Linked DNA regions of Homo sapiens. Each later gene encodes a partner of the first gene's protein in a complex. Each region holds a gene or a part of one and is shown on either strand. Other genes may lie near its edges.

Evidence for each region.
Region 2: KAT14 (region 1) and TADA3 share a complex: the UniProt entries of both Homo sapiens proteins name them as parts of the ADA2A-containing complex.

The regions. Positions count from the first base shown.
Region 1 is NC_000020.11:18,154,646-18,158,468, reverse strand, and holds part of KAT14 (cysteine-rich protein 2-binding protein), read right to left. Parts: intron 1-3,823. UniProt on the Homo sapiens protein: Component of the ATAC complex, a complex with histone acetyltransferase activity on histones H3 and H4. May function as a scaffold for the ATAC complex to promote ATAC complex stability. Has also weak histone acetyltransferase activity toward histone H4.
Region 2 is NC_000003.12:9,782,195-9,786,017, forward strand, and holds part of TADA3 (transcriptional adapter 3), read right to left. Parts: intron 3,232-3,823; coding exon 3,122-3,231; intron 2,020-3,121; coding exon 1,834-2,019; coding exon of another isoform or gene 1,830-1,833; exon of another isoform or gene 932-1,829; intron 915-931; exon of another isoform or gene 818-914; coding exon of another isoform or gene 787-817; exon of another isoform or gene 1-786. UniProt on the Homo sapiens protein: Functions as a component of the PCAF complex. The PCAF complex is capable of efficiently acetylating histones in a nucleosomal context. The PCAF complex could be considered as the human version of the yeast SAGA complex.

The DNA.
Region 1 (3,823 bases):
CTAACGGAAATTCTTTCAAGGCGACTGTTCTATTTCCACCTTGAAAAGATACATCAATCCCCGGAAATCCTAGAAGACAGTCTTTCACAAGAAGACCAGTCTAACAGTTGGAAGGTATTGCTGGGAAGGCAAAGGAAAACCATTCTGAGGAACAGAGACGTAATATTAATAGAAAACTCAGAAAATAAACAAAACAAATAAGCTCAGCTATAGTAGGCATAAGCACTATCTGAGGCTGGGTGCGGTGGCTCACGCCTGTAATTCCAGCACTTTGGGAGGCCGAGGCGGGTGGATCACCTGAGGTCAGGAGTTCGAGACCAGTTTGGCTGACAGGGTGAAACCCCGTCTCTACTAAAAATACAAAATTAGCTGGGTGTGGTGGCACATGCCTGTAATCCCAGCTACTCGGGAGGGTGAGGCAGGAGAATCTTTGAACCCGAGAGGCGGAGGCTGCAGTGAGCCAAGACTGCACCATTGCACTCCAGCCCGGGCAACAAGAATGAAACTGGGTCTCAAAAAAAGCACTATCTGAGATGGAGAGAATGAAACCCCCAAGCTTTTGGTTCCAAAGTACCTCTCCTACATTCTTATCTTTTTCTAATCTTTCCAAATCCTCTCTAATAAATACAAAATGTAGCATAAACACATACAATAGAATATTATTCAGTCTTAAAAATAAAGGAAATCCTATCACATACTGCAATGTGGATAACCCTTGAGGACACTTATGCTAAGTGAAATAAGCCAGTCCCAAAAAGACAAATACTGTATGGTTCTACATATATGAAGTATTTAGAGTAGTCAAATTCATAGACACAGAAAGTAGAATGGTGACTGCCTAGAGCTGTGGGGAGGGGAGAATGGAGAGTTATTTAATAGGGATAGAGTTTCAGATCTGCAAGCTGAGAAGAGTTCTGGCCATCTGTGAATCTATATTCAAATACGTGAACATACTTAACACCACTGAACTGTACACTTGGAACTGGTTAAGATGGTAAATTTTCACTGTTTTTACTGCAATAAACAAACAGAAGTCTGGGCAACATAGTGAGACCTCATTTTTACAAAAAAATAAAAATAAAAAAATTAGCTGGGTGTGATGGCACGTGCCTGTGGTCCCAGCTACTTGGGAGGTTGAGGTGGGAGGATCACTTGTGCCTGGGAGGTAGTGGCTGCAGTGAGCCATTACTGTGCCATTGCACTCCAGCCTGGGTGACAGGGTGAAACCCTATCTCAAACAAACAAAAACAATAAAAAAGACTGACAAAGACTCAAAAGATTTTAAAAACCAATGTGTTATTTACTGTGTCGAAAACGGGTGCGTACTTGTACATTGACAGTGGGACTATAAATGGGCATATACTTTCTGGAGGTTACTTTCATAATGTACAGCAAAATTGTGTGTATCCTCTGACCTCGCAAATCTACTTCTAATCACAAAAACACAAAGGATATATATACAAGAATATGCCCCACAAGGCTAACTTAAACACAGAAAAACTGGAAATAACATAAATGTTTATAAAATTATCGGCCAGTGTTACAGATTTCATCGTATCCTCCCAAAAGATGTTGGAAGTCCCAGTACTTGTGAATGTGACCTTATGTGCAAACAGTGATCATGAGGTCATTAAGTTGAACACTAATCCAATATGACTGGTGTCCTTACACAAAGGGGAAACTTGGACACAGAGACAGACGTGTAGAGAGGGAAGATGCATGAAGACACAGGGAGAACGTCATCTACAAGCCAAGGAAGGCCTGTGGCTAACAGAAGCTAGGGGAGAGGCATAAAATACTCTCTCCCTCACAGCCTTCAAAAGGAACCAATCCTATCAACACCTGGATTTCAGATTTCCAGCCTCTAGAACTAGAATACATTTCTGTTGTTTAAGCCATCCAGTTTGTGTTACAGCATCATTAGCAAACTAATATAGCCAGCTAAATCACAGCACAACACATAATGAGACATTTGTATGGAATGGAATAAATTTGTTGCCAGGACATATACAAACACAGTATTTATGAATGGCCTCAATAGTTTTCCCCCAAAATTATTATTGTGGTAAAATATACATAACATTTACTATCTGAACAATTTTTAACAGTATAGTTCAGTGGTATTAAGTACATTTATATGGTACAATCACCACCACCATCCACTTTCAGAACACTTTTCACAGGGCAAAACCGAAACTCTATATCCGTTAAACAACTCCCAATTCCACCCTCCCCGCCAAGTGCTGACAACCACCATTCTACGTTCTGTATCTGTGATTTTCACTACCCTAAGTATCTCAGATAAGTGGAATCACACAGTGTTTGTTTTCTTGTGATTGGTTTGTTTCACACAGCATAATGTCCTCAAGGTTCATCTACACTGCAGCATGTGCCAGAATGTCCTTCCTTTTTAAGACTGAATGATATCCACTGTATGTATATGCCACATTTTGCTTATCCATTCATCTACTGATGGACACTTTGGTTGCTTCCACATCTCAGTTATTGTGAATAATGCTGCTAAAAACATGGATATACAAGTATCTCTGAGACCCTGCTTTCAGTCCTTTTGAGTATATACCCAGAAGTGAAATTGCCAGATCATATGATCATTATATTTTTAACTATTTGAGGAAACACCACACCATTTTCCACAACGATTGTACAATTTTACATTCCCACCAACACTGCAAAAGGGTTCCCATTTCTCCACATTCTCGCCCACAGTTGTTGTTTTGTTTCTTTGATAATTGTCATCCTAAGAGGCATGAGGTGGTATCGTGTTATAGATTTGATTTGCATTTCCCTAATGATTAGTGATGCTGAGCATCTTTTGATGTGCTTATTGGCCATTTTAATATCTTTGAAGAAGTGTCTATTAAATGCCTTTACCCATTTTTGCAATGAGGGGAGCTATAACAACAATGGCTGCCATCTCTTTTCACCTCTATGATTAGAAGCAGCAATCAGTGATCAGAGCACAAATACCCAGTATTTGGAAAACAGGCTTATTTTTGCCCACCCTGGATGCTACAAGCTGTGTGTAAGCCACTCCAGGAACACACACACAGCTTTCTTCCTAGTGGCTGGAGAAGGGGGATGGGTAGCACCAAAAAAACCCCCACCTTTTTACATTTAAACTTTAATAACATATTAAAGGCATAAAAGAAAAACCTGTAAACATCTGAAAGAAAATTCAGAACTTCATTACACTGTATAGCATTCTCTTAGATCTTGTGACAAATGAGAAATGGTTACAATTTTTAAGAATTTAAAGTATGTCCTGGCCAGGTGCAGTGGTTCACGCCTATAATCTCAGCATTTTGGGAGGCCAGGCGGGTGGATCACCTGAGGTCAGGAGTTCAAGACCAGCCTGACCAATAAGGTGAAACCCTGTCCCTACGAAAAATACAAAAATTAGTCGTGCATGGTGGGGTGTGCTAACCTAAATAATTTTATGTACCATTGTAGAAACAAGTTAAAAAGTATATGAAAACTTAGTTATTACTGAATAATTGCCTAGTATTTGTTCATTTAATCTGCTTTTACAGTCCTGGCCTTGAATTCTTCCAGAAGGTATAGTTTTGATTAGTGAAGAATAGCTTGAATATTTTCTTCTACTACCATATTTTACTGATTTTAAGATACGTAATTTTGCAAATTTTGACATCTCTGACAGCTAGATACATCTTATAGTTACTGATATGTCATAATTTAATTGGTAGTTAGCTCTTATTTGTACACAAAATGGTGTATCTTAAAGTTAATGGATCTTAGAATTGATGAAATATGATAGTACACATTCATAGTATCTACACTTCAA
Region 2 (3,823 bases), on another chromosome or scaffold:
CCTCTGCTTCCCTCAGTGCCTCTTCCATCTGTGTTTTCTTCTTCTCACCTTTCAGAGAAAACAAACTATTATAGAAAGAGGCTTTGATTCAACCACAGGTTCAAGTCTCAGCTTGCTGTTTATTGACTGTGTGACCTTCAGCAGAGCATTTCGCTTCACTGGGCCTTTATTTCCTCATCTGGTAAACAACGAAAATAGCTCCTCCCTCCTGGGTTGTTGTCAAGACACTTGAGAGAGTGTACATAAAGCCCCTGACACACAGTAGGCCCTCAGCATACATTAGTCACTCTTATCCTTAAATACCCTGGCAGCTTGTCAGCAACTACCTCTCCTTTTAATGGCACTTATCTTTACTGATCATCTGCTAGTAATCTGCAAGTCCCTTGCTCTGCCTCTCTTGCTGGCCCCCAGCACAATATCTAAGAGACAGTAAGAATGGCCAAATGATTAGCCTGGCATGGTAGTGCATGCCTGTAATCCCAACTACTCAGGAGGCTGAGGCAGGAGAACTGCCTGAACCCGGGAGGCGGAGGTTGCAGTGAGCCGAGATCATGGCACTGCACTCCAGCCTGGGCAACAGAGTGAGACACCGTCTCAAAAAAAAAAAAAAAAGGCCAAATGAATGAATGTGCCCTGTCCTGTCAGGGCTCTATGAAGTTAAGACACAGCACTTGTCTGTGAGAAGCAAAGAGACTTGTTCGGGTTGCTTCCCTATCTCTTTACCTAAAGGGTAGCTATTCCACAGTCTTCCTCAAGATGTCACCTATACCCTCGTGATCAATGCAGAACAAGATGGATGGGAGTTGACATCAAATGAATGGCAGGCACTGTGATGGATTCCCAAAAGAACATGTCCTAAAACACTGGTCAATTTCTTGTGATGAGCAAATAAAAATCACAGATCTCCAACAAAATGTTAACAGTTAATTAGTCTAGGTGGAGAATATACTGATGTTTATTGTATGATTCTTTCAGATTTTCTGTGTGTATCAAATTTTTAATAACAAAACTTTGGGGATAAAAAGAAAAGAAGCATGAAAAGACAAAAAATAAATCACACAACAATGTGAATATGGGTAACACTACTAAACTGTACACTTAAAAATGGTTAAGAAGCGTAAATTTTTTTTCTTTTTTTTTTTGAGATGCAGTTTCACTCTTGTTGCCCAGGCTGGAATGCAATGGTGCAGTCTCAGCTCACTGCAACCTCCGCCTCCCAGGTTCAACTGATTCTCCTGCCTCAGCCTCCCATGGAGATACATTTTATATTATGCCTTTACCATAATTAAAAAACCAAACTAGGCCAGGCGCAGTGGCTCACGCCTGTAATCCCGGCACTTTGGGAGGCCGAGGCGGGTGGATCACGAGGTCAGGAGATCGAGACCATCCTGGCTAACACGGTGAAACCCCGTCTCTACTAAAAATACAAAAAAATTAGCTGGGCGTGGTGGTGGGTGCCTGTAGTATCAGCTACTCAGGAGGCTGAGGCAGGAGAATGGCATGAACCTGGGAGGCGGAGCTTGCAGTGAGCCGAGATCATGCCACTGCACTCCAGCCTGGGTGACAGTGCGAGACTCCCTCTCAAAAAAAAACAAAACAAAAACAAATCAAATCAATCGGTCAGTCACAGATGCCTGAGCCCCACTCTGTGGAATCAGAATTTGTTTGGGACATACCCGGTGGACTGGCCACTGCTGTTTTTTTCGAGGCTCTCCAGGTGATTTAGAGGCCAGCCAGGATTGGAAAGCCTGTTGTAAAACCCCTGAAAGGTGACTAGCCGTGGCCACAGCCTCCAAGGCCACCCCCGGGACTGTGCATCCTGCTAACGCTCACCTCAGCAGGTCGTGCTTCTTGGTGCGGTTGTGGGCACTAAGTGCCTTCAGCTCAGCCTGCCGTTTGCGAAGCTCAGCAAGGACCTCATCCTCGGAGTCCTCTGCGGGGCGGTCCTCAGACTCCAAAAGGCCCTGGGCAATTAGCTCCTCCTTGATGCGGCTCTCCAGGGACTTAGTATGCGGCACACTGCAGCGGGAGGCAGGCCCGTCAGACTCAAGAGCCAGCTTGGAGAAGGGCCCACCTTGGAGGTTCCCAGGGCTTCCCAAGGTCAGTGAAAACCTGCCTTTCCCTTTGGGCACCCCCTCTGTATCTATCCAGATACAAAGGGAGGGACAGACACATCTGGTCTGGTTTTTAAAACAAGCAACGTATGTATCTACTATTCAAAAAATATGGAAAAACCCATAATGCCAACAACCCAGAGAGAATTACTATTATTTTGTTATATATTATTATATATATTCCAGATTTTGTTATATATTATTCCTAATCTTTTGCTACATATTAGTCCAGGTTTTTTCCCTTATGTGCACATATTTAAATATATTGTAAGTAAGCCAGGCATGGTGGCTCACACCTGTAATCCCAGCACTTTGGAAGGCCGAGGTGGGAGGATCACCTGAGGTCAGGAGTTCAAGACCAGCCCGGCCAAGATGGTGAAACCCCGTCTCTACTAAAAATACAAAAATGAGCCATACATGGTGGCAGGCGCCTGTAATCACAGCTACTTGGTGGCTGAGGCAGGAGAATCGCTTGAACCTGGGAGGCGGAGGTTGCAGTGAGCCAAGATTGCGCCATTGCGCTCCAACCTAAACGACAAGAGCGAGACTCCATCTCAAAAAAAAAAAAAGAAAAAGAAAAAAAGAAATATATTTTAAGTAAAAATAGTATTATACCATCCATACTGGGCTACAACTAATATTTTCTCCACTTGTCACTCTATAATTTACATCTTTTCATGTCATTTAACTATATTTCTCTATACTTGCAGCTATATGATTAATAGCCCCAAGTTATTTCATCATATGGAGTTATGCCAATTTAGCCAACCATTCCCCTTCAGCAGGACATTTGGGTTATTTATGGTATGAACAGTTCTGTGCTGAACAACCCTGCACTCAGTCTGTGCATGCAGACACGCTGGGTCATCACTCACACTTGAGACTGCTATTAGGCTTCACCTAACTGCCCCCAGCCTCTTACTGATGAGGACTTCCCCAGGTTGAGATGGAGAGAAGCCAACAGAAGCGGGGGCCAGACTGTGGGTTGTGGATAGGACACCACTCACCTGAAGGGCTTGTTCTGATTGCGAGGGGAGGTGCTTGCCCCGTCAGCCCCTGATTCTTTCCCAGACATGTCAGGAATAGGAGAATCCTCCATAGGGGAAATAATATTTTCCTAGAAGACCACAAAAATGAGTGGAAGGAAAAATAGCTGTTCCACTTTCCTGCTCCTTTCTGACCTACACTGACAGTCTTCAAACACCAGAAATATCCTTTTATCTTTCCCATCCCACCTACCGTGGGAAGCCTTCCCATACCAATCCCAAATTGCTTTGATCATTCTAGAAATCCCTTTTATTTTCGTACTGATGTGAAGAAAAAGGAACACAGAAGAGAAATGATTAACACTCAATGATGGTAATGAACAGCTAAGGTTTGTGAAGCGTCTGCAACGCACCAGGCAGTGTGCTAGGCCTGCTGTGGCGGAGATGCTAGCTGTCCGAATGCCATACTCTTCTTTCCTCCACGGCAGCTAGGCAATGCCTGTCCAGTTGTACTTCCCAGGCTCTCTTGCAGGCGGGTATGGTCATGTGACAAGTTCTCTCCAGGGGAAAGTGATCAGAAGAGATAAGAGCCATAGCTAGGCATGGGCCAAAAAGTTTCCTTCACACACTCCTCCTTGTTTTGTTTTGTTTTTTTTTTTTGAGATGGAGTCTCACTTTGTCACCCAGGCTGTGGAGTGCAGTGGCACAATTTCGGCTTACTGC